Homo sapiens: one gene and its partners. The protein of the gene in region 2 purifies or fractionates together with the protein of the main gene of each other region. This does not show direct contact. Each region holds a gene or a part of one and is shown on either strand. Other genes may lie near its edges. The genes, in order: CDS2, VSIG1, RRP1, INTS4, XPO7, INTS2 and SLC25A17.

Region 1 (3,977 bases), on a different chromosome or scaffold from region 2:
GGAGTTCAAGACCAGCCTGGCCAATACAGTGAAACCCCATCTCTACTAAAAATACAAAAAAAAAAACGCCAGGTACAGTGGCTCATGCCTATAATCCCAGCACTTTGGGAAGCTGAGGCGGGAGGATCACCTAAGGTTGGGAGTTTGAGGCCAGCCTGACCAACATTGAGAAGCCGTGCCTCTACTAAAAATACAACATTAGCCGGGCATGGTAGCACACGCCTGCAGTCCCAGCTACTCGGGCGGCTGAGGCAGGAGAATTGCTTGAACCTGGGAGGTAGAGGTTGCGATGAGCCAACATCATGCCATTGCACTCCAGCCTGGGCAAAAGAGCGAAACTCCCTCTCAAAAAAAAAAAAAAAAATTAGCCGAGCGTGGTGGCGGATGCCTATAGTCCCAGCTACTCAGGAGGCTGAGGCAGGAGACTAGCTTGAACCTGGGAGGCAGAGGTTGCAGTGAGCTGAGATCGTGCCACTGCACTCCAGCCTGGGCGACAGAGAGAGACTCCGTCTAAAAAAATAATAATAATAAAATCCCATACATGACAATTCAGTGACAATTGAGAAGTTCTGAATAATGGGGTGAGGAACTGATTGTCTTGTTCTCGGTAATGAACATCAGGCTTTTAACAGAGTGCATAGCAGCTGTCTTTTAGGAAACAACACGCCACAAGTGGACCTCATGACCCCAGGCATTCTGTCACTGTATAAGTGATATAAGTGCACCTCTAGCTGGACAGCTCCTCAGGTCCTCCCAGTCTAAAGTACAGGATGTGAAAGTAAGACGGTTCAACTCGCACTTTATCTCTGGGGGATGGATCCAACGAGTCCGGGAAGGAGGGTAGAATCTTTATGTTGCATCTCATAATCCCAAGGTTGTTTTTTGACATTCTAATTATTGTACATAGTTAGCTTTTCAAAAACATGGCCCACCAGCTATCATGCCTTCTTTCTTCTCTCTCTCCTCACACCTTCTAGGTCCACAAAGTCCCACTAACATCAAGCATGATCTCACCCTTAAACAGAGCTACAGAGCCTCCAAACATCTGCATACTCACCAACTAGTAGTACAAGGTAAGTCAGAATTCTTTCAGGCTGAACCAGGATAGCCAAATGAAAAATTAGAGACTTCAAAGTATCTTGTCTCTGCAAGCGACTGCTAAATCCTCAGCCCCAGCCCTAAATGTTCTCCAAAATATGTTTTTGTTTTTGTTTTTTGAGACAGGGTCTCAAACTCCTGGGCTCAAGCGATCCTCCTGCCTCAGCCTCCCTAGAAGCTAGGATTACAGGCGAGCAGCACTGTGCCTGGCCAAAATATATGTTCTAAAAATCGGTAGGAACAGTTCTCTTTGGATAGTCCACTGTCAACTGCAATAACACGAAAGTTGTTTAAAAAAAACCCATGATCTCATTATCTTTCACCAAAAACATTCCTCCTAGTGTAACTGCTCTGTTGACATCCTGTCACCAAATCTTGTGCTTTCTTCCTTCTGGGTGTCTCCCTAATGTCCGTTGCGTCCAGTCATCAAAAAGTTACAGGCTGCATTAGGGGAAGCCGTGAGCCTGGTGTAAGGCAACAGGGATTGGTGGGAACCGATGATCCTCAGCTCCAGCCAACCATTGAGCAGGTGACAAAGTGATGGTGGACCCTCCAATTATCTAAGACAGGCAAGAAATTTAGATTGTTAGGAGAAACTTTCTGATTTTTAAGGCAATATGTGGGCCAAAGAAAACATCTACAGGTCACTCATGGGCAATCCCGAGTGAACCAGGCTCCCTCAGTCTGGTCCAGGCTCCCTCAGTCCCTTCTACACATCACTGTCTGATCAGTTTCCCAAACACAGGGCTCCTGATCACTGCTATCTCGGAAAGCACAACTACTGCTACAAAGTCCTATACTGCCATTCAACCTCCACAGTAATAAAACCAATCCCTACCTTCCTTAACTCCCCTACACAGATCTTTCACTTCACCCAAAGGAGTCCACTCCCCCACCCGTCACCCCCGCCACTGTCCCCGCCAAGATGGCCTCCTTCCTACTCTCCTCCCCTACCCACCAGAGCCCACACGGTGCAGGAAACAACCCATCAACCGGGAGGACGCCCTCCAACACCTGCTGATGACGGACTGGCTCACTGGGTAACACCCCTTTGCTCAAAGCCGATGATTTCATGCCCAAGAAGGGATTTACATCTCCCAGGAGGCAAATGCTATGGCCTTGTCCTGATTCCCCCACCCCCCAAAATAATAACATTGTAAAAGGGAACGGAGAGCCTAAGTTGCGCTCAGAGGAGCCGCCTCCCTAAGAAGGCTCTGCATATCTTCACCTCCAGGAAGGCCTCACGGAGTTGGGGGAGAGGGGAGTCCCCGCAGCCAGCCCAGCGAGGCAGGAGGCCGTGCGCCACTCCCGAGAAGCTCCTTCCTGCGCCCCGGGGGAGCCACTTCAGTCAGACCCTGAGCCGGGACCCCGACCCGCCGACCCCTGACGCGCGCGCCGCGAAGGCCGGGCACCCGAGGGCCCTTCGCGCTACCCGGGCCCGGGGCCGCCGTCGGCTGCGACAAAGGGTCAGAGAACAAGACGACCCCTCTGCGCGCGTCCCCCGCAGGCCTCCCGGATGCGCCGCTGTCCCGGCCGCGCCCACCCCGACGCTGCCGCTACCTTGTCCTCGGGTGGCGCAACCGGCTCATGGGCCACCCTCTGCCTCAGCTCTGTCATCCTGGGAAAATCGGCCCGACGTCGCCGCGAGCTAGCAGCGAAGCCGCCGGAGCAGGCAGCTCGGCGCGGGCACGCGCGGACTCCCACGGCCGGCCCCGCCCCGCCCGGGAGGCGCGCGGCTCTGAGCGGCTCACAGTTCCCTTAGCAGCCCAGCAGCCAGCCCTGGAGCTCGGCCCCACCCAGTGCCGTCACCGCCCTTTCACCCGGGCCGAGCGGGGTCAGCCTTCCCTAGCCCCGACCCGAGAGCTCCCTCTCCCGGGAGCAGGGCTCGGAGCGAGTGCGCACGCGCAGCGCCACCATCACGGTCCGGAATATCCACCAATGGCGCAAATACGCCAGGGAGGCAGGGCGACGGGGGCGGGGCGGGGCGGAGCAGAGTCGAGAGGCGCGCATTGGACGGCAGCGTCAGGGGCGGGAAAAGGCGTGCGTTTCAGTGTGCGATTAGCCAATGGGAGCTCCCGCTTAACCGCGGATGGCCGGAGCTGGCGCCCTGGTTCTGGAGGTAACCGGTTACTGAGGGCGAGAAGCGCCACCCGGAGGCTCTAGCCTGACAAATGCTTGCTGACCTGGGCCAGAGCTCTTCCCTTACGCAAGTAAGTAGACGTTATTTAGGTCGAATGGAAAGGCCAGGTGAGCCGACCTGGTTAAGAGCATTTTATCACTTATCACATGATGAGAAATGAAACCCACGCTTCAGTCTGCTTTGCTTTGCCAAGCGGTCGCTAGTACTTGTTAAGCACTAATTGTATACTAGGCACTGAGCTGAGTAATCGCTTTAGTTGGCTTATCTCGTTTAATCCACACATGGCTTGGAAGTGGGTATGATTTGAATTTTACAGTTAAGATCTTCCTCAGTGGTTTGTTTGTTTGTTCGTTTGTTTGTTTGTTTTGTGACGGAGTCTCGCTCTGTCGCCCAGGCTGGAGTGCAGTGGCATGATCTCGACTCACTGCAACCTCTGCCTCCCGGGCGCAAACAATTCCAAGGTGCGCGCCACCACGCCCGGCTAACTTTTGTATTTTTAGTAGAGACGGGGTTTCACCATATTGGTCAGGCTGGTCTCGAACTCCTGACCTCAGGTGATCCGTCCGCCTCCGCCTTCCAAAGTGCTGGGATTACAGGCGTGAGCCACCGAGCCTGGCCCTTCCTCAGTTTTTCAAATTTGTCTTCTGGACTATGGAAAGACCTTTTTTGGGACAGAAGTGCTGTCTACTTTGTTTACTGTGCATCCTCTATGTCTTTGACACATCCATTGTAAGTACTT
Region 2 (3,500 bases):
AGGAAACTCATATTTACATTTTTTATTTTTGCAGTCAGTCACATTATTTATGCTTCACATGCAAGCAGGTGTTGGCTTACTTTTGTGGTCTGTTGTTCTAACAGCAGTTTAATTTTCAGTATTGTTTTGCTCTGTTTGGTTTATCGGATATCACTGAGGCTGACATTTGTCCCAGATCATATCGCCTGAAGGAGCAGAAAGGTTTCCCTAGGTCAGGCTTCCAGGTGCCTCTCAGTTGGGGTAGGTATGGTGGGACACTTCTACTGGCGCCCTGCACTGTTGGTGTCTCTATGGGTAGGAGAGGACAGTCATACACCCACTGAGACAGAGCCTTCCCAGACTGGGCCGCTTGCCATCACTTTATGCCTCGTGTCTGTTCTACCCTCCCACCTCGATATCTCTAGGTGAAAGTGGGACATCTCAGGCCTGGGGAGAAGGCAAATGCTTCTTTTGTCCACTGTTGTTGGTGGGGTTTCTGAAGATCCCCCCTTACCTGTGGTGTTGGGCCTACCTGATGTTGTCAGAGGGACTCTGAGGGAGGAGTAAGCTTACCTGGGCTGCCCTCTGTTGTTCAGTTGGGTATCAGGAATGGCCAGGACTAGGTTTCTTTCTTCTGCTGGGTGGGAAACATAGGATACCCTTGCTCTTTGTTTTTCCCTGGGTCTCAAACCAGTTTGCCTTCTCCTTACAACCTTCCAGAGTTCTACCCTGGTTGTCTCTTGCATTATTTCCAGGGTTTATACTTGTGCTTAGCAGGGAGGAACAATGAAAAACAGGTCTGTACTACATGTCCAGACCAGAAATCTCCCTCAGTTTTTAAGAGTGTAAAATTGTCCTGAGACCACAAATTTTGAGAACTGTTGGCCTTACAGAAAGATGAAGTAATTAAGCTCCCCATAGGATTTGGAGGCCCACCGAAGGGCACCCTACCCAAATCCAGCCTGCCACTACACTAAAATTCTCAGTTCTATATGAGCACTTTCCAAAGGGCTATTTTAGGTGATGGCACTTTGGGGAGCACTATACAGTCACTGTCTTATCTTATTAACTGGTTGCTATGCATTGCATTGTCGAAGACTATAAAAGTTCTCCAGGATGGGTCACGGGATTGGCAGGCAAGCACTGGAAGAGAAAGTCAAGTTCAAGAGACGCTCTCTATGCTGTCCTAGTTGCCTGCAGGGTAACAGAGGGTGTTGGAGGGTTGAGGGTGAAGGGATGAGGATACAGAAATTATGAAAGATTCAGAGGAAATTGCATAGAGGGACTAATTCCTGTCCATCTTCCCAATTTTGCATACCCAAAGACTTATTTATTTCATATTTTTCTTACTTAATGACAGCAGTCAGACAAAAAGAACTTAAAGGATTGACAAACACTTTTAAAAAGTAAAAGAAAAAAAATCGTTGTACTGATTACTCTTGGTTTCATGGATTCAATATCTGTGTTCTCTGTCACAGCCAGGTCACCTGGTCCAGCTGCTTTCCTGCCAGAAGCTGGCTGTTTACATGGCAACCAATGCACTGATAAATTAAGAAAAGTGCCTGAATGCAAACAAAAATGCAGCACTTTTTAACTCCATACAGTTTCCCTCTTCCCAATATTCTCCTCCCCATGCTTTCCTGGTTTCCATAATGCCTCCTCCAAAAAGGAAATTGGCTTTCAGAAAGCAGCTAATCTTTCCAACAAAAACTTCACTGGAGAAAGATGGTTCCCTCCCACCCTCAAAGAGCCCATTTCATTTCTCCTGGAAGTTAGCCACATCTCTGGCCGTGCTTAAATGATGACTTCCAAATGTCTTTAAAGTGTCCAAAATAAAAAGGATAAAACTGGGGTTTTGGTAGCCCTTAAAGTTCCCAGACTTATTCCCTAAAAACAGAGATTTTAGAGATATTATTTGGCCATAATTTTTGTTCTCTAGTTTGGGACCCAGTATCTGTTACGAGATTGGTTAAGGGTGAGAATTTATGAACAGATAAGGCAAAACAATAAACAAAACCCCACAAACCCCCTTTGAAGACCACTCTTGGAAAAAGTGTTTGATGGCAGAGTACACACAGTACTCACACAAGTCAAGCCATGGAAGAGGCTGTGGAGCCTAGCAACAAATATCAATTGAGCACCCATTTTGTGCCACAAACAGTGCTGAACACTGGGGAAACAAGAATGAACATGACAGACACAATCTCTGCCATCCCTCAGTGCAGCAGGAAGCCATTTATAGCACAGATGAGAATAGAGGTGAATGAAAATCAAGGATTTGGAAAATATAAATCTGATTCAAACATTTCTAACATTTTAAATATAGAAGATATATAAATGTGTAACTAATTAGAAATCTGCAAAAGTTTAATAATATCACCTTGGAATTAGGATGGTAATTTCAAATTTTAAAGTGAGACAATATTTTTTGAGGTACTACACATTGTCATGTAAATAAGTAACAGTTGGCAAAGCAAAACCTCCAGGCCATTTTATTGCCCAGATTCCCAATTCTTAGCACCATAACCAATTAAATTCTGAAGAAAAGATGTTTTTCAGACATTGTCCAACCATGATATAGTGATGATATGCTTCAGAGCTAAAAGTTATATATTTCCAGATGAGCCTTTTTAAAATGTCACATCATTCAATTAGTGCACATTACTTAAAACCTCTGAGCTCACCCTTACAGTGCTGTCCAACAGAACTTCCTGTGATGATGGAAATGTTCTATCTCTGCGCCATCCAGTTCAGTAGCCCAAATAGAATTATCAAACACTTGAAATGTGGCTAGTGAAACTGAGGAACTGACTTTATAATTTTCATTAATCTGAAGTGATTTAAATTTCAATAGCCACATGTAGACAATGGGCAGTGCAAACTTAGTCCTAAAGTGGAGGTGATTCTCTGAGTGTCAGGGAAAAAAGTTCCCTTCCTTTGGATTAAGTCATTCTAAGTTGAGAAATTATTTAAAAATTGAATAAGTCAGAAAAATCTCTACATCAATAGGACTGTGAATAAATAGCAAAGTAAAGATTAGTATCTGATTTAAACAAAACCCAAGAACGCAATGTCCCTCTCTGACTTGACCAAATTTAAAAACAAAACAAAAATGCATATGTGGTTGAAATATGTGTAATCTCTTTTAAAAACCAGTGCTTACCTGCACGTTGTGCACATGTATCCTAAAACTTAAAGTATAATAATAATTAAAAAAGTGCTTATTATTAAAGAAAAATAATCCAAGATGTACACACTTAATCAACATTTAAAAATATTTTTAGGCTGGGCGCAGTGGCTCACGCCTGTAATCCCAACACTTTGGGAGGCTGAGGTGGGCGGGTCGCCTGAGGTTGGGAGTTCAAGACCAGCCTGACCAACATGGAGAAACCCTGTCTCTACCAAAAATACAAAATTAGCCGGGCGTGGTGGTGCATGCCTGTAATCCCAGCTACTCAGGAGGCTGAGGCAGTAGAATCACTTGAACCCGGAAGGCGGAAGTTGCGGTGGGCCGAGATCGT
Region 3 (4,094 bases), on a different chromosome or scaffold from region 2:
GTAGACGCCACACTTGTATTTTTTTGAGACGGAGTCTCACTCTGTCACCCAGGCTGGGGTGCAGTGGCGCGATCTCGGCTCACTGCAAGCTCCGCCTCCGGGGTTCACGCCATTCTCCTGCCTCAGCCTCCTGAGTAGCTGGGACTACAGGCGCCCGCCACCACGCTCAGCTAATTTTTTGTGTTTTTAGTAGAGACGGGGTTTCACCGTGTTAGCCAGGATGGTCTCGATCTCCTGACCTCATGATCCGCCCGCCTCGGCCTCCCAAAGTGCTGGGATTACAGGCGTGAGCCACCGCGCCCGGCCAACGCCACAACTGTTAACAGTGTGCCATAGTTGCTTATCTGCATACACATATGTGCGTGTAATGATTTACTTTTTTGCAGAATGAATTACAGACATCATGACAGGTCACCTTTACCAAAGAGTTCTGCAGTTATTTCTAAAAATAAAGAATATTTTTCTACTTCAGGGTATGTCAAACTGTGGCCCTAGGCCAAATGCAGCCTCCCCGTTTTTTTTTTTGTTGTTGTTTTTTGAGACAGAGTCTCACTCTGTCGCCCAGGCTGGAGTGCAGCGGCGCAATCTCGACTCACTGCAACCTCCGCCTCCCGGATTCAAGCAATTCTCCTGCCTCAGCCTCCTGAGTAGCTGGGATTACAAGCGCCCGCCACTACGCCTGGCTAATTTTTGTATTTTTAGTAGAGACAGGGTTTCACCATGTTGGTCAGGCTGGTCTCAAACTCCTGACCTCGTGATCCACCCGCCTCAGCCTCCCAAAGTGCTGGAATTACAGGCGTGAGCCACCGCGCCCGGCACACCCCTGGTTTTAAAAATAAAGTTTCGAGCCGAGAGTGGTGGCGCCCGTGGTCCCAGCTCCTCGGGAGGCTGAGGCTGGGGGATCCCTGGAGCCCGCGAGGCAAAGGCTGCAGTGAGCCGAGATCGCGCCTTGCACTCCAGCGTGGGTAACAGAGCGAGACCCTGTCTCAGGAAAAAAATACAAGTGGGGTTATAAATAAAATGAGATTAAAAAACAACAGATCTTTGCCTCAGAATCCCGACCCACCGCAGCCCCAGCGAGGCGCAGGCGCAGGCGCAGGCGCGCGCTCGCTGGTTCCGCCCATGCGCACAGGCAGGGAGCGCGCGCCCCCTCTGTAGCCTTCGGCCTCCGGGGGCTGCAGTTGCGCGGCTCGGCCACTGCGCGGCGGTGGCGTGCGCCTGGGCGGTGTCGCGGGCTGTGACGTCACGCCACGCGCCGGGGCCAGGAGGAGGCGGGCGCAGGAGGCGCGTGCTCAGTGTGCTGGGTACCAGGCGACTCCGGGACAGGGGGTCTCGGCCGTCGGCGTCATGGTTTCGCGCGTGCAGCTCCCGCCTGAGATCCAGCTGGCTCAGCGCCTGGCGGGGAATGAGCAGGTGACCCGGGACCGGGCGGTGAGGAAGCTCCGGAAATACATCGTCGCCAGGACTCAGCGGGCCGCAGGTTGGCGGGGGTGTGGGCGGCTGGCGTCTCGGGGGCCGGCTGGGCTGGTGCGGGTGTGGGCGGCGGCGGCCGGAGCTGGGGGCCCTCCGAGCCCTGTGGAACCTCCACGTGGCCGGGCCGGGCAGGCGGGGTCCACTGGCCTGTTCCCGCTGTTACCGGCCCACGGCCCCCGCCGCCGCTTTCCCTCGTGGTGCGGTGACTCTGGTCCCTCTGCGAGAACGCTCCTCCCCAGCCCCGTAACCCCTTTCCTAGCTCAGGCGTCCCCTCCCTCCAGTAGACCATGTACTCCTGCTGCCCTGCTGTTTGGGCACCCAGTATTTTTCCCTCATGGCAGCATTTCCCACTGTTTGCAGTTTTCTGTTTTGCGTTAATTATTGGATTGTTTTCCGATTTCCACTCGAGAGTACCTCTCTGAGGGCCGAGAATCTACTTCTTGTTCATGGTACCAGGTGGTTCTCCGAGCGTGGTCCCCCATCAGCAGTAGCATCCCCTGGACATTTGTTAGAAATACACGTTCTATGCCGGGCGCAGTGGCCCAAGCCTGTAATCCCAGCTACTTGGCACGTCGATGTGGGAGGATCACAAAGGCCCAGGAGTCCAGCCTGGGCAACATAGCAAGACTCCATTTCCATCGCAAAAGAAAAGAAAGAAATGCAAGTTCTAGGATCCCAGCCCTACTAAATCAGGACTGGCATCTGCTTTATGAAGCTGTTCAAGTGCTTCTGCTCCCCACACTCAGCCTGAGAACCACTGCTGCAGGAACAGGTTGCCAGACACATAGGACTTCAGTGAATGTCAACTGAGTAATGTTTTAAATTAAAATTTTTTGTTATTTTTCTGAGTGAGACAGACCTCACTGTCATCCGTGGTGGAGGAGTGCATTGGCACGATTACAGCTCACTGCAGCCTCTACCTCCCAGGCTCAAGTGAGCCTCCCATCTCAGCCTCCCCAATAGCTGGGACTACTGGCACCGTGCGGCCAGGCCAGCTAAGTTTTGTATTTTTTGTACAAATTGGGGTCTTCCTATGTTGCCCAGACTGGTCTTGAACTCCTGGCCTCAAGTGATCCTGCCTCAGCACTCAATTCCAAAGTGCTGGGAGTACAGGCGTGAGCCACCGCACCTGGCCTCAGTAATTTCTGTTTCTCTCGTAGTCTGAATGCCTGAGTTCACTTTCTTCTTTTAGTATTTGAGATATATTACAGGAGAGTGCAGAAGCCCTCAGTATAATGCTGGATGAATTATCACCAACAGATTAACCTTGTGGCCACTGTCCAGCTTAGGAAACCGTCAAGGTTCGCAATTTTGAATTTCCAAAATGGAGTATGGTGCCTGATACCTTGTAGATCTCAGTCGGTTTTACTGTGTGCGTGAAGTAGCAGTTACCTGGAGTAGCCGCATAGCCACAGGCGCGGCAGGTTCTGGGTTAGAAGGATTGTTTGAAGGGGAGGGCCAGATTCTGCCCCCCAGTTGCCTTTACCGTAAGTGGGACTTTGGTCTCATTCAGGCAGTCACGTTTCTGTGGCTTCCTTTCTGGCACTCGAAGGTGTGGGATTCATTTGGTCCAACCGTTGCTGTTTTGATGCAGGTGGTTTTACGCACGACGAGCTGCTGAAGGTGTGGAAAGGACTGTTTTATTGCATGTGGATGCAGGACAAGCCACTCCTCCAGGTGAGTGGGGGGAGCAGCAGAGCAGGTACAGAAGCAGCGGGGGAGGATGGATGGGCATCTGGTCAACCCAGTTTTTCTTTTTTTTTTAAGTCGGAGTTTCGCTCTTGTTGCCCAGGCTGGAGTGCAGTGGCTCAATCTCGGCTTACTGCAACCTCAGCCTTCTGGTTTCAAGCAATTTTCCTGCCTCAGCCTCCCAAGTAGCTGGGAGTACAGGTACCTGCCACCATGCCTGGCTAATTTTTTGTATTTTTAGTAGAGACAGAGTTTCATCATGTTGGTCAGGCTGGTCTCGAACTCCTGAGCTCAAGTGATCCTCCCATCTCGGCCTCCCAAAGTGCTGGGATTACAGGCATGAGCCACCGCGCCCGGCCTGGTCAACCCAGTTTTAATATGGCCAGAGACCGTGGGGAGGTCGTATAGCCTTGACGCTTGGTTCGGCACGGCTGGTGGGCCTGGGCCTTTGTTAGGTGAGTCTTACACTTGCTGAGGTGTTGATGTGATTGACTGAGCCGTGCACTGCAGCAGCACTGGCATGGGTGAAAACTGGGTTTTGTGTTTGTCCTGGGTTGCAAACAAGTGCTGAAATAGTGGAAACCACGGGGCGGAATTCAAGTCTCCTGAGACAAGGACGTCTCCTGCTAGCCTTTTCCAAACATTGTTTCTCAAATTGTGAATTTTGTGCTCTCCTTCAAAATCTCCTGGGTGGTGAGGGTACTTAGTTAAGTTCAGGTTCCTGGGCCATATTCCATGCCCACTGAATTATCAAGGGGAGGCTGTGAAATGTCCCTTAGCAAGTATTCTGGGCGATGGCTGGCACGGTGATGTAGGCAGATAGCCAGTGATCTATGGGGTCTCGCAGCCCTCTTCCTCCTGATGGTTAGGGGGCTGTGAGTCCCAAGGCTCCCTTCCGCTCTCCCACGTCCCTCTTTAACCGTGACTCTGTG
Region 4 (3,500 bases), on a different chromosome or scaffold from region 2:
CTAGTTGCAAAAAGGCTCTTGTACCTTCAGCATCATGATTGAGTTCCAGATAGGATGGAAAAGGAAGGTTAAAGAACAAAGGGGATAAAGCTACTGCCTCTGGTCCTTTATCAATAAAATGAAAGATATTTCAGGAATTTCAGCTAAAAAACTTCCACATACTTTGTTACATGGCCACCCTAGATGGGAAGGTGGCTGGGTAGAAGGGGATGGTAGATAGAGGCTGAGTCTGCTAACCAACAGTAACTACTGTTATTATTACTTTTTTTTTAAAAGGATTCATCCAGAGATATTCGAGAGGCTCTTCATGAACTCTTATGCTGTACTAATGTTTCAACCAAAGAAGGGATTCATCTTGCATTGGTGGAGCTGCTGAAAAATTTAACCAAGTACCCTACTGATAGGGACTCCATATGGAAGTAATGACTTTTTTGCCCATTTACTCACTGAGTCCCATAATGTGGTAAATGTATAATGCTGACATTTGTTCCGTCCTTATAGATTGAGGATAGTACGGCCCTGAATTTTGCCTTTACTTTAGAAACCTGATTCAACTTAACCGAACTCTCAGGAATCTGATTCCTAAGCTGAGTATCACATTTTAGATTACTTACTAATTTGTGCATCTATCCACCTAGCAAATATTATGTGCCTGCTGTGTGCTGACTATGCACCAACCCTTGTGGTAGCTGTTACAAGTATAGAAATAAATTAATTAGATTTCCTCTTTCTCCTATATAGTGTTTTGTTTTGTTACTTTTTTTTTTTGAGACGGAGTCTCGCTCTGTCACTCTGACTAGAATGCAGTGGCGTGATCTCAGCTCACTGCAACTTCTGCCTCCTGGGTTCAAGCGATTCTCCTGCCTCAGCCTCTCGAGTAACTGGGATTATAGGTTGCATGCCACCATACCCCAACTAATTTTTGTTTTTTTTTTTAGTAGAGATGGGGTTTTACCATGTTGGTTAGGCTGGTCTTGAACTCCTGACCTCAGGTGATCCCCCTGCCCCGGCCTCCCAAAGTGCTGGGATTACAGGCATGAGCCACTGTGCCTGGCCTTATTATTTTTTATTCATTAAGTTCTGGTTTAGAAGGTGCACTAAATTGGCTGGGTGCAGTGGCTCACGCCTATAATCCCAGCACTTTGGGAGGCTGGGGCGGGTGGATCACCTGAGGTCAGGAGTTCAAGACCACCCTGGCCAACATGGTGAAACCTCATCTCTACTAAAAATGCAAAAATCTGCCGGGCCTAGTGGCACACGCCTGTAATCCCAGATACTTGGGAGGCGAAGGCAGGAGAATTGCTTGAACCCTGGAAGCAGAGGTTGCAGTGAGCCGAGATTGTGCCACTGCATGCCAGCCTGGGCAGCAGAGCAAGACTCAGTCTCAAAAAAAAAAAAAAAACCATAAACAATAATAAAAATATATAATTACCTTGCTTTTATAGTTCCTTATAGTTTATAAAGGGCCCTCATGTAGTTATAATAGCTAACATTGAGTTCTTACTATGTGACAGACACTTTGCTAAGTACTTTATGTTAGTTATTTAATGCGTATAGCAACTCTATGAAGTAATGACTTTTAATCTCATTTTGTAGATGAAAAAATTTACTTGCATAAGGCTACTTAGTTTCAGACAGATCTGTGATTTCAGGACTTCACCCAGGATATCAATCAGAATGTTTTTGCCCACAAATAAAAAAGACAATCTGATTAAAAATATCTTAGCCAATAAGTCTGTTTTTTCATAACAAGTGGTCAGAAGGTTGGTTTCAGGATTCGTCATTCAACAGGTTACCAGGGCTCTCTTTGGTTTCTCTGCAGTTCTCTTGGCTTTTTTTTTTTTTTTTTTTTTGAGACAGAGTCTCTCTTTATCGCCAGGGTGGAGTGCATTGGCATAATATTGGCTCACTGAACCTCCGCCTTCCAGGTTCAAGTGATTCTCCTGCCTCAGCCTCCCGAGTAGCTGGGACTACAGGCCCGTGCCACCATGCCCAGCTAATTTTTGTATTTTTAGCAGAGATGGGGTTTCACCATGTTGGCCAGGATGGTCTTGATCTCTTGACCTCCTGATCCAGCCACTTCGGCCTCGCAAAGTGTTGGGATTATAGGCGTGAGCCACCACACCCGGCCGGCTTTCTTCTCATAGTTGTAAGATGGCTGCCTCATAAGATAATATCTCAAGACAGAAAGGAAGGGTCATTCCCTTTCATGCATTGCTCTTTTGATTTGCAAAAACATCCCTGAGAAGCTCCCCAGCCAGCATACTCTCGTGCTCCATTGTCTAGAACTGGCTTACTTGCCCACCAGCAAACCAGTCACTGGAAAATGGGAATGGGATTGCCATGATGGGTTTAGACCAATAGTGGTTCAGCTCTTGGGCTGGACCTGCCTTTTCCGAGCACTTTGCTGCCTGCCTGATACCTGAGTAAAATCAGGGCTCTCTCAGGAAGAAAGATGGGGGAAATGGCTCTTGGTTAAATAACCAGTTCTTTTATCTTTATAATAACCAGTTTTTTTAGATGAATTAACCGAGTTCCAGAATAACTGGGTGACTTATCTGAAGTCATAGAGTTAGCAAAAGTATATGGTTGAGAATTTCCAATTCCAGTTCAGGTTTTCTGATTCCAGTTCCTAGTACTTTTCAAAGGACTAACTTTACTAATTTGTTGATGTGCATTCTTATTTGTTTGTTTCAGGTGCTTGAAGTTTCTGGGAAGTCGGCATCCAACCCTGGTGCTTCCCTTGGTGCCAGAGCTTCTGAGCACCCACCCATTTTTTGACACAGCTGAACCAGACATGGATGATCCAGCTTGTATCCTCTGTGCTTAGGATGGGCCCTGATGTGTTGGCAGGCAGCTTTGGCATCTCCTTCTGCAGTATAGCTAGGGTAGTCTGAATTTTCTTTTCTTTGCTTTTCTTTCTTTTTTTTTTTTTTTTTTGAAGACAGAGTCTCATTCTGTCACCCAGGCTGGAGTGCAGTGGCCTGATCTCGGCTCACTGAAACCTCTGCCTCCCGGGTTCAAACAATTCTCCTGCCTCAGTCTCCTGAGTAGCTGGGATTATAGGCGCCCGCTACCACACCCAGCTAATTTTTGTATTTTTAGTAGAGATGAGGTATCACCATGTTGGCTAGGCTGGTCTCAAATTCCTAACCTGTTGCTTGGGCTGGAGTGCAGTGGCACCACCCCAGCTCACTGCAACCTCCGCCTCCCGGATTCAAATGATTCTCCTGGCTCAGCCTCCCAAGTAGCTGGGATTACAGGTGCCTGCCACCACTCCCGGCTAATTTTTGTATTTTTAGTAGAGACGGGGTTTTACCTTGTTGCCCAGGCTGGTCTCAAACTCCTGACCTCAAGTGATCCACCCACCTCAGCCTCCCAAAGTGTTGGGATTACAGGCGTGAGCCACCATGCCTGTCCAGTATGTACTTTGATAGGCAATATAGTTGCTTACTTTATAGGCAAAATCATTTCCATTTTTTGTATTCTTGGCAGTCTCT
Region 5 (3,500 bases), on a different chromosome or scaffold from region 2:
TGCTCATCAGTGCTGGCAAAAGAAACCCGGCCACCGATCACTGCTCCAATAATGTAAACCAGCCATGTCAGCCTTCCTGCAGCAGGAGACAGACCCAGTGTCACCTCCAGTGATAGTTTCTTGAAGACATTCCTCACTCTGAACTTCCTTAATCTTAAGAACACTGTGGTGAAACCATGAAGTCTTACTTTTCTTACAGAGAATGGCTACTTCTCTGCTTTGGTAAGGGCAATGCTAAGAGGGAAATTCGTTAGGTAACCAATGTTCCTGTATCAGACAAGGCCATTATTTTTAGTGTAGTATTTCCTTAGAGTTAAAAACACCCAAGCTGGGCACAGTGCCATGTTACAAACACCAGCCAGGCCCGGTAAAAAGAGGAAGCCCAGGTTACTATCTGTACTTATCTCCCTGTTTCCCCTGGCCCTTGATTTAGCAGTCATAAACCTCTTGGCCTGGTCCCAGCTGTGCTGTGGGGCATTAAAAAGCAGACAGGAGCCAGGTGTGGTGGCACATGCCTGTAGTCCCAGCTACTTCGGGAGGCTGAGGCAGGAGGATCACTTGAGCCAAGAAGTACAAGGCCCACGTGGCAACATAGCGAGACCTCATCTCTTAAAACAAAATCCCACTGCAGATGTGATTTCAGTTCTTCTTCCCTAGTCCCTTGAGGGATTTATTCATTCATAAAGATTCTTGTGCATATGGAGACAACAGATGATGAAAGAATCCTTTTGCAGGGAGGTAGGAAAGAGGTGGCAATGAGCGAAGGGGTACTAGACAACATCTCCTCACAGGTCTAGAGTTCCCAGCACGCTGCACACTCACCCTCCTGCACTGCAATGTCCATTGGGCTTGCGCTGGCGCTCTGTAGCAGCTCCTGGTACGACTGGGCCGACTGGTCAAACAACTGCACGAGGAGTGCACACGTCTTCTCATATTCACAACGCCCAATGGTGGACAGCTGGTCCAACTGCTGCTGGACCAGCCCCGTATCCTCCAGGGGATCTTCCAGGCCATCTCTATTCCCAAGGGAAGAAGGAAGGCAGCTCTCTTAAAATATGACTACTGATTTGCCCAATATAGCAGCTCTCTGACTTCTTCACTTAGCCACCATTTCTGACTGTAGAGGTCTACATCCCGACATTACTTTTAACCAAGGAAGAATGTTTAATGAGGCAGAAGGCCAATGTCTTCGCCCTAGCATCAGTCTCCCTTAGGTATATTCTGCTTGTTGGTGTCAAATCTTACAATCTGAATTCTCAACTCTTAATGTTTTTCTGCCTTAAACCTCAAAGTCCTGCCCTTCTCAACTGTCTGACCTCTTGACTCTTAGTCTTTCGCTTGTTCTTGACTATAGTAAACTGTAGGATAAGTACACAGTCCTGTGTGGGAGGCCATTGTGGCCAGGTGTGTCTTGGAATTCAGAACTGTTCAAATTGGAGGAAGGCAGTATGATGCTTCTACCATATCATATAAAACCCTTGATGGGCTTTGTGGCACATCAAACTCAACGTTCCTGTAGCAAAACTTATGAATATTATAAATGGTCATACTAAGTAGGATTTTAAAAAAACTACAAATGGTCTCATACCAACTCCCGTCCGGTTTTGTAACAAGTGAATTCTAATGCCAAACTGATGAGGAAATTTCTTTTGTCACATCTTTGACTTTGGAATTGCAGACAAGGCATTGTGGCCCTGTACTAGGTCTTGCCTTATCTGCCAGCTCCTAGATTTTAACATCTTGTCCAATGAGGAGCTCTTCTGTTGTTACACTGCAATATGATAATGGCAGCAGCAGCAGCAGCAGGAGCAGCAGCACTAAAACTAGCTGTGTGCTTACCATGTGCTACACACTGTGCCAGGTCATATTAATTTAATCCTTGTAAGAACCTTATGAGGCAGGCCTATTATTATTTGAATTTTACAAATACAGAAATGGAGCAACTTGCCCAAGAGTACAGAGCTACTAACTGGCTATCCGGCCCCAGAGCCTACAAACATGTAACCACTCCCCAACAATGCCTCACTGAAGCCAGCCGAATCCTCAGGAGTGGAAGCTATGGAGGTGACAGAAGAAGGCTTGCTGGTGAACTTCATGAATACTCAGATTTTGAACTGATTCAAGTCATCAACAGTTAAGACTATAACTCATGACTATTCAATGCACTTGGGGCTAAGCAAATTAAGAATCCAACTTAAAAAGGCCCCAGACCCTTAGACTCCAAGTAAATTCTCTTGACAAACAGCCAGTGAAAACAAGAAAGCTACCTAAACAGGGCTATAACTTCATTTAATATAGGTAATTTTTGAAAGGGCTTGACATTTCTTTAGCTACGGGATTTTGGTTCAGTTAAGTCAATGTAGACAGAAACCATGTATGAATGTAAAGCAATCAGTGATCAGTGGCTTAGAATTCTTATGTGTTCTAGCTCTGGAATTAGAATTGATAACTAGATTGTGTAATCTTTATCCACTTATTTCTTTAGGAGTTCACATTAAGCACCTATAAGTTACACATAATTCTTATCATCTATATCTTATAAATGTTTCTCACATTGAAAGAAAAACAGCGGCAAGGACAAACATTATATGGATATACTCTATTCAAAGATATTGCTATGGACAGTGAAAAGGGGGAATATGAATAGAATATAAATGTTCAAGAGACAAGACTATTCTATCAGGCTTTATGCTCTCATGCTACTCTGCTGACAAGGAAGAAGAACCATGAACAGTAGTGGCTCCAATGAGACACGCTTCGAGTACCTCTTTGCCAATGGGGTGTCTGATCTCTAGGAAGTGTGACAACAGGCCACTGGTGCGGGAATGAATGAGGCTAAGTTTCCTTACCTCAGTATGATGTGCACAGATTCCAACCGGGATGTGATGTAGGCTTTGGTGACCTCAGGAGTGTAAGTTTCCAGCATGTGGGGCTCTGTGGCTTTGACATACGGCACAGAGGCTGCCAGCCGCTGCCACAGGCTCAGAAGATAGTGCACACTATTTGGAGCAAATTCCCAGTGCTAAAGAAAAGTAGAAAAGCAGAAGGCATATTTTTCATTTCTGTACGTGTTAGTCCCATGCCACTGACACAGAAGATAAAGACTTTTTTCTTTTTTTTAAAAAAAGAGGATAGACTTTTGTGGGCTTTGTTCTGTGTATGGCATCTAGTTTAATGTGTTTATTAGTATTTTCAAGATTAAGCATCTAATGAGAAGGGCTACTCTATGCTGGCTGTGTAAGCCTTACCATAAGGAAAGCCATATGTAAGTGGGTCTCAACCATTAGTATGCATGACAATCACCTGAAGAACTTGTTAGAAACACCAAGGCTCTACCCTGGACCTACTGAACCAGAAATTATGGGGATAAGACTCAAGAATCTATATTTTTTCATCAGTCCCCTAGATGACTGTGATACAAGCCATAAAATTTGAGACCCATTGTTCTATATTACATGACTAAGAAAGAGAGGGCATCAACTCTCTTTTTACTCTTCTGT
Region 6 (3,500 bases), on a different chromosome or scaffold from region 2:
ATTCAGCATTGCTGCTCCTAACTCAGGTAAAACAGGAGAAATGTTGCTGTGTGTGTATTAAACTCAAAAAAACAACATGAAATCTGAGATGGCATGAGAGATGAAAGGCAACATGCTTAAGTGGTCTTTAAGATAAGACAAAGAAAAGACTTCAGCTACTACTCAATAGCAAACCCATCAGGCTGCTTCTGAAAGACAGGAGTCCCAAGTATTATATGAAATTACCATGAAAAAAGTAACTCCTAAATAAGACATTGTATACTTAAATATATTTGTGAAAAATGCAACTGTTTTTCCCTTCTAACAAACTGGGGAAAAAATACTTTCATCAAATTTTCCCTGAATGAGCCAGGAGCAGTGGCTCATACCTGTAATCCCAGCACTTTGGGAGGCTGAGGCAGGCAGATCACCTGAGGTCACGAGTTGGAGACCAGCTGGCCAACATAGTAAAACCCTGTCTCTACTAAAAATATAAAAATTAGCCAGGCGTGGTGGCAGGTGCCTGTAATCCCTGCTACTCGAGAGGCTGAGGCATGAGAATCACTTGAACCCAGGAGGCAGAGTTTGCAGTAAGCTGAGATCGTGTCACTGCACTCCGGTCGGGGCAACAGAGTGAGACTCTGTCTCAAAAAAAAAAAAAAAAATCCCCCTAAATGAATGTAGGTGTATCTTAGATTCCCAGGATGCTAAACAAACCTATGCTGAATATCTTGATATCCCACACAGTACTTGATCAAATACACAATCTCCAGGGAACCCATTAGACTTTAAAGTGAAGCTTAAAAAAAAAAAAATTACTGGCCAGGCGCAGTGGCTCACACCTGTAATCCCAGCACTTTGGGAGGCCAAGGCAGGAGGATCACTTGAGGTCAGGAGTTTGAGACCAGCCTACTCAGGAGGCTGAAGCAGGAGAATCGCTTGAACCCAGGAAGCGGAGGTTGTAGTGAGCCGAGACTGCCCATTGCACTCCAGCCTGGGTGTCACAGCAAGACTCCAGTCTCAAAAAAAAAAAAAAAAAAAAAAAAAAAAGGCCAGGCACAGTGACTCACACCTGTAATCCCAGCACTTTGGGAGGCTGAGGCAGGTAGATCACCTGAGGTCAGGAGTTCGAGATCAGCCTGGCCAACATGGTGAAACCCTGTCTCTACTAAAAATACAAAACATTAGCCAGGCGTTGTGGCAGGCGCCTGCAATCCTAGCTACTCGAGAGACTGAGGCAGGAGAATCACTTGAACCCGGCAGACAGAGGTTGCAGGGAGGAGGAGGTTGCAGTGAGCTGAGATCGCGCCACTGCACTCCAGCCTAGGCAACAAGAGTAAAACTCCATCTCAAAAAAAAAAGTGCCTGTTTAGCAAACTACTTGGAACTAATACCATTCTTTTAATTTTTAGAGGTGATCTAAGGAAATTTAATCTAATTTTAAATTCAGAACTACCTAGAAGTCCTCTGATAGGAAAATAAAAATATGGGTTAAGTAAGAAGAACTAAAAGAAAAATAAGTTAATAGATATAAAAGAACCACTATTTTACCCCAATGACTCCTTGGAAAATATTGAGTATCTCCTGTTCTGTGACTGGCTGATTTGTGGCTTCTGGATTAGATTTCGACGCAGGAGTAAGTATAGAATTTATGTACACATCAATCAAAGGAAGTAATTGAGGATGAAGTGGAGTAGAGGTTTCACACAGCTGTCTATAAATCCAATCCTAAGAAAGAATGTTATAGACACTGAATTAATTGTGGCAAAAAGAAAAACCAAGCAAAATTATAAAAGTACATACAGTTTTACATGAATTATGAATCAGTAAAACTCACTATTAACTTTTGGCAGTTCCAAATATATTATCTAGTATCATAACTGCCTTTGATTTTAAAATATGAACTACCATTATATCTGTATCATCTTAGGTGCACCCTCCACTAGAAGCTTGCCTTTCGGTTTAATCTATTAGTTTTTAAGTAGTGGGAAAAACATTTTAAGTCCCTACCATATCTGTATTTAGAGCACCATGTGTGTCGTCATGGGAGAGCTCACGTTAGATAGGAATTTGGAGAGAGAGAGATAGGTCCTTCACAGCAAACCCTCAGATAGACTAAGAAAATGTCTCTGAAAAGCACTTACAGGAGACTTATCACTTAACTATCATTGGATGGAGGACATGTAAAATGTTGGGGGTGCATGTGAACTCTTAATTCTTAGCTATTTTACTTGCTAAAAATATAAAGCAGATGATGCAATCTGGCTGGAAAATAATCTCACTAAATCACAAAAAACAAGCAACAATTAAAAAGTGATATATCATGCATATATTATTCACTGTTCTTTGTAAATATCTGAAAAAGTTTCAGTCTACTTTACCTCCTGGGTCTTAATACCTTCTCTTTAGAGGGCCTTTTAACTTGTTAGATATAGCCAACTAAGACAAATCAAAACATGTCAAAATTCTAAGTTAGGTGTGAGGTGTCCTTATGACAAATCAACAAATACTAGTCATGGCAGCTTCCCCAATTTGTAAAACAAAACCAGGCCCACTGCAGTGGCTCATGCCTGTAATCCCAACACTTCGGGAGGCCGAAGTAGGAGAATTGCTTGAGACCAGGAGTTCAAGACCAGACCAGCCTGGGCAAAATAGCGAGACCCTGTCTCTACAAAAAAACACTTTTTAAAGCCAGGTATGAGGCCAGGCACGGTGGTTCATGCCTGTAATCCCAGCACTTTGGGAGGCCGAGGTGGGTGGATCACGTGAGGTCAGGAGTTTGAGACCAGCCTGGCCAACATGGTGAAACCCTGTCTCTACTAAAAATTAAAAAAAAAAAAAAATTAGCCAGGCATGGTGGCAGGAGCCTGTAATACCAGCTACTCAGGAGGCGGAAGCAGGGGAATCACTTGAACCCAGGAGGCGGAGGTTGCAGTGAGCTGAGATAGCACCACTGCACTCCAGCTTGGGCAACAAAGTGAGACTCCATCTCAAAAAAAAAAAAAAAAAAAAAAAGCCAGGAGTGGTGGCTCGCACCTGTAGTTCCAGCTACTTAGGAGGCTGTGGCAGGAGGACTGCTTGAGCCCAGGAGTTTGAGGTTACAGTGAGCTATGACAGCCTGGGCGACAGAGTGAGACCCTGTCTTTAAAATTAAAAAAAAAAATTAGAAAATGGCAGTTTCTAAGTTTTAATAAAATAGCCATGTGCCACTATTGAGAATTTAAATGGAGTATTATGCATTTTGAAAATCTTACATTGTTTTAAAAATCTGAAATTACTGTATAATTATATAATTATAATTACTATCCCTAATTACTATACTTATATAAATGACTAGTAACTTAGCTTAATACCACACATTTCCTACACAAAACCCACAATAAATGCCTACAAACTGAAATACAACTGGGGAGAAAGCATTAATTTAGGTTGTTCTTTGAAATATAAATGTAGGCCAGGCACAGTGGCTCACGCCTGTAATCCCAGCACTTTGGTCGGTTGAGACAGGCATATCACTTGAG
Region 7 (3,500 bases), on a different chromosome or scaffold from region 2:
CATAGTTTTCTGACTCCTGCTATAGAGAGAGTGACTGGCAATAGTGGTAATATATTTCTATTTAATCTACAAAGATACTTCTTTTTTTCACTTGTTGCCTATTTTTCTCTTTTTTTCTTTTTCTTTCTTTCTTTCTTTTTTTTTTTTTGAGATGGAGTTTCGCTCTTGTTGCCCAGGCTGGAGTGCATGGAGTGCAGTGATGCAATCTCGGCCCACCACAACCTCCGCCTCCTGGGTTCAAGCGATTCTCCTGCCTCAGCCTCTCGCCGAGTGGCTGGGTTTACAGGCATGTGCCACCACGCCTGGCTAATTTTGTATTTTCAGTAGAGACGGGGTTTCTCCATGTTGGTCAGCCTGGTCTTGAGCTCCCGCCCTCAGGTGATCCGCCTGCCTTGGCCTCCCAAAGTGCTGGGATTACAGGCGTGAGCCACTGCGCCTGGCCTGGAATTACTTTTCTAACTTTGTTTATGCCTGAATCAAAAACGATTAATGAAATTATATCGTCATACATAGTATTGTATAACTTAATTTTTTAAGAAGCAAATATGGCATAATAGCTGAAAAAAAAGGTTCTGTAGTAAAGCTTAACTATGAATGCCATCATCAATCGAACTATAAAACAGGGACAATAACAATGCCTCACTTAACTGGGTTCTTGTGGGAAGTAAATGTGATTATATTTGTGGAGCATCTAGCATAATGGAACGTTGTAGTAAGACCATAATTATTCATTTCTGTCTCAAGTATATTCTTGCAAATACAGCACTTATACCTAGTTTTAGAAATTTAAGGGAATTGAAATGTTCTCTTGCCTCATGGCCATCTCCACCCATTCCCTTCACTTGTTGCAGATGATCTTACCTTTTACTCTCTAGATAAAATAGAACCTACTTGGGATGAGTTTTTTCAGTTTTTTCCAATTACAGTTGTACTCGTGTTTTCTACATTCTGCTGGTCTCAGAGGAAAAATAGACATATTCAGTGTCTGCTACCTTCAATCTTTGTCCTCCCCTCCAGCCCATGGCCAGTTTTCTTCCAGGACTTTGCTCCAGTAATTTTCATCTCTTTCCTATAGCTTTAACCTAGTATCTGCTTCTGTTCAGCCCTCAAACATGGTCAGGTCTGTCCCATCAGAAAACTATACCAATCTGATCTGGAATCTGGTAGCTTCTTCAGCCTCTGCCTGTTCTCTTTCCCTTTGTGCTAAGCTTATTTAAAGAATATTCTGGGCCGGGTGTGGTGGCTCACACCTGTAATCCCAGCACTTTGGGAGGCTGAGGCGGGCAGATCACGAGGTCAGGAGATCGAGACCATCCTGACTAACACGGTGAAACCCCATCTCTACTAAAAATACAAAATATTAGCCGGGCATGGAGGCAGGCGCCTGTAGTCCCAGCTACTCGGGAGGCTGAGGCAGGAGAACGGCATGAACCCGGGAGGTGGAGCTTGCAGTGAGCCAAGATTGCGCCACTGCACTCCAGCCTGGACGACAGAGCAAGACTCCGTCTCAAAAACAAAAAAAACCAAAACAAAACAAAACAACAACAACAACAACAATATATATATATATATATATATATATATATATATATTCTGCACGTACTGCCTTTCCTCATCCTACTTTGACCACTGGAACTGTTCTTCCAAAGGTCAACTCTGACTTCCTAACAGCTTAATCTACTATTGTGAATGGTTTAAGGTCATGGATAACCAGGTACACACACATTTGTGTCTTTTCACAATGTCAGACTTTTATTGTGTTATTTCAGTTATAAAAGACAAGTTACATGGAGTTCTCAAGGAGGCAATTTTTATTAGTACTTCTCATTCACTAGGTAGTCAGTCAATATTGTAAATCATATATAATAGTATACCTAATTAATACATAAATGATGTAGATTAAACATTCTGCAACAAAGTAACATTGAACATCAAGAGAAAAGGGTGAGGAAAAAGGGTTACCTAACCAGTCCGGGGAGAGTGATATAGACAAGTATCCTGGTTTCATCATGGCAGTGTGTTGGTCTTGTAAGAAAGAATCCTTGATGTGGGCAGAGCCTTTGGACACAGATATCAGGCTTTTATAACAAGTGACAGCAAGACAGTGTCTGTTAAGACCATTTTGAGTTTTTTAAGTCCTGTTCTTTTTATGGTCACAGAGTCTTCTGGTAAGGACTGATAGTGGAAGAGCATGCTTGGTTGTGTCTTTATCTGGAAAAACATCTGGTCCCTGTTGTCAAAGTGCTTTTTGAAATGAAAGATAGGAGTCTTTTTCTAAGATGGAGTTACTTATGTCAAGAGTGCTCTATACATCTACTGACTGTTTTTGCATTCTTAATTGATTCCAGTTCTTTGTAAGTATTCTATACTGTTGACCCTTCTACCTTTCTGAAGCTCCTTCTGAAAGAGCAGTTGGTGTTTATTTTTTACTAAATAGCAATTGCTCTTTTGGAAGGAACTTGAGAAGACATTACTCCTTTTAGGGCCCTAAAATTAACAGTGGTTTCTACTACTAACAGATACTATAGCTATAAAGGACATGTAGAAACCAACAATTGTTGAGTGCCACCTGTGTGCCTGGTATGATGCTAGGTGCCAACCATAATTTTTTGTTTTTGTTTTTGAAACTCAGTCTCGCTCTGTCGCCCAGGCTGGAGTGCAGTGGCGTGATCTCGGCTCACTGCAAGCTCCGCCTCCTGGGTTCACGCCATTCTCCTGCCTCAGCCTTCCGAGTAGCTGGGACTACAGGTGTCTGCCACCACACCCGGCTAATCTTTTTGTATTTTTAATAGAGAGGGTATTTTTTTTTTATACAGAGTCTCGCTCTGTCACCCAGGCTGGAGTGCGGTGGCACGATCTCGGCTTACTGCAACCTCTGCCTCCCAGGTTCAAGTGATTCTCCTGCCACATCCTCCAGAGTACCTGGGACTACAGGTGTGTGCCACCACTCCTGGCTCATTTTTGTATTTTTAGTAGAGATGAGGTCTCACCGTGTTGGCCAGGCTGGTCTCGAACTCCTGACCTCAAGTGATCCACCCACCTCAGCCTCCCAAAGTGCTGGGATTGCAGGTGTGAGCCACCATGCCCAGCTACTTTCCATAATTTGATTCTAACTTCTCATAGCAACCTTGACAAATACCGGTCTCAAAATTACAAATGAGGAAATTGAGACATAGAGATTTGAAGTTACTTATGTAATATATACTATACTTGGGACGTAAACCTATATTTTATCCCTAAACACTCGAGAGTGTCATCCATGAGGCCATTTGTGTAACTTGCCTATCTGTCTGTGTATGTATGAGTTAGCTTGATTGTTATGTCAGGGAAAAGACTTACATTAACTCTGATGAGGTGAATAACATTTTTAAATATGAAAGCCATTGTAAGTGGCTTTTAATCTTTAGAATTTTATTAGCTCAAACCACAGAAAACATCTTAGGTGGTTTTTAAAAATTTTTTTAAATTTTTATTTGTTTTGAGACTAAGTCTCACTGTGT

What was found.
Region 1: the proteins of VSIG1 (region 2) and CDS2 purify together in Homo sapiens (co-immunoprecipitation; 2 studies listed by BioGRID and IntAct, with this or other methods). This does not show direct contact.
Region 3: the proteins of VSIG1 (region 2) and RRP1 purify together in Homo sapiens (co-immunoprecipitation; 3 studies listed by BioGRID and IntAct, with this or other methods). This does not show direct contact.
Region 4: the proteins of VSIG1 (region 2) and INTS4 purify together in Homo sapiens (co-immunoprecipitation; 3 studies listed by BioGRID and IntAct, with this or other methods). This does not show direct contact.
Region 5: the proteins of VSIG1 (region 2) and XPO7 purify together in Homo sapiens (co-immunoprecipitation; 3 studies listed by BioGRID and IntAct, with this or other methods). This does not show direct contact.
Region 6: the proteins of VSIG1 (region 2) and INTS2 purify together in Homo sapiens (co-immunoprecipitation; 3 studies listed by BioGRID and IntAct, with this or other methods). This does not show direct contact.
Region 7: the proteins of VSIG1 (region 2) and SLC25A17 purify together in Homo sapiens (co-immunoprecipitation; 3 studies listed by BioGRID and IntAct, with this or other methods). This does not show direct contact.

Annotation. Positions count from the first base shown.
Region 1 is NC_000020.11:5,125,831-5,129,807, reverse strand, and holds the start of CDS2 (phosphatidate cytidylyltransferase 2), read right to left. Parts: upstream 2,801-3,977; 5' UTR 2,716-2,800; coding exon 2,659-2,715; intron 1-2,658. UniProt on the Homo sapiens protein: Catalyzes the conversion of phosphatidic acid (PA) to CDP-diacylglycerol (CDP-DAG), an essential intermediate in the synthesis of phosphatidylglycerol, cardiolipin and phosphatidylinositol.
Region 2 is NC_000023.11:108,048,065-108,051,564, reverse strand, and holds part of VSIG1 (V-set and immunoglobulin domain-containing protein 1 isoform 2 precursor), read right to left. Parts: intron 1-3,500.
Region 3 is NC_000021.9:43,788,283-43,792,376, forward strand, and holds the start of RRP1 (ribosomal RNA processing protein 1 homolog A), read left to right. Parts: upstream 1-1,294; 5' UTR 1,295-1,347; coding exon 1,348-1,480; intron 1,481-3,067; coding exon 3,068-3,150; intron 3,151-4,094. UniProt on the Homo sapiens protein: Plays a critical role in the generation of 28S rRNA.
Region 4 is NC_000011.10:77,921,669-77,925,168, reverse strand, and holds part of INTS4 (integrator complex subunit 4), read left to right. Parts: intron 1-276; coding exon 277-419; intron 420-501; coding exon of another isoform or gene 502-523; exon of another isoform or gene 524-1,718; intron 1,719-2,697; coding exon 2,698-2,813; intron 2,814-3,500. UniProt on the Homo sapiens protein: Component of the integrator complex, a multiprotein complex that terminates RNA polymerase II (Pol II) transcription in the promoter-proximal region of genes.
Region 5 is NC_000008.11:21,982,162-21,985,661, reverse strand, and holds part of XPO7 (exportin-7), read right to left. Parts: intron 3,023-3,500; coding exon 2,850-3,022; intron 1,017-2,849; coding exon 823-1,016; intron 77-822; coding exon 1-76.
Region 6 is NC_000017.11:61,889,983-61,893,482, forward strand, and holds part of INTS2 (integrator complex subunit 2), read right to left. Parts: intron 1,708-3,500; coding exon 1,531-1,707; intron 1-1,530. UniProt on the Homo sapiens protein: Component of the integrator complex, a multiprotein complex that terminates RNA polymerase II (Pol II) transcription in the promoter-proximal region of genes.
Region 7 is NC_000022.11:40,812,847-40,816,346, reverse strand, and holds part of SLC25A17 (peroxisomal membrane protein PMP34), read left to right. Parts: intron 1-2,388; exon of another isoform or gene 2,389-2,464; intron 2,465-3,500.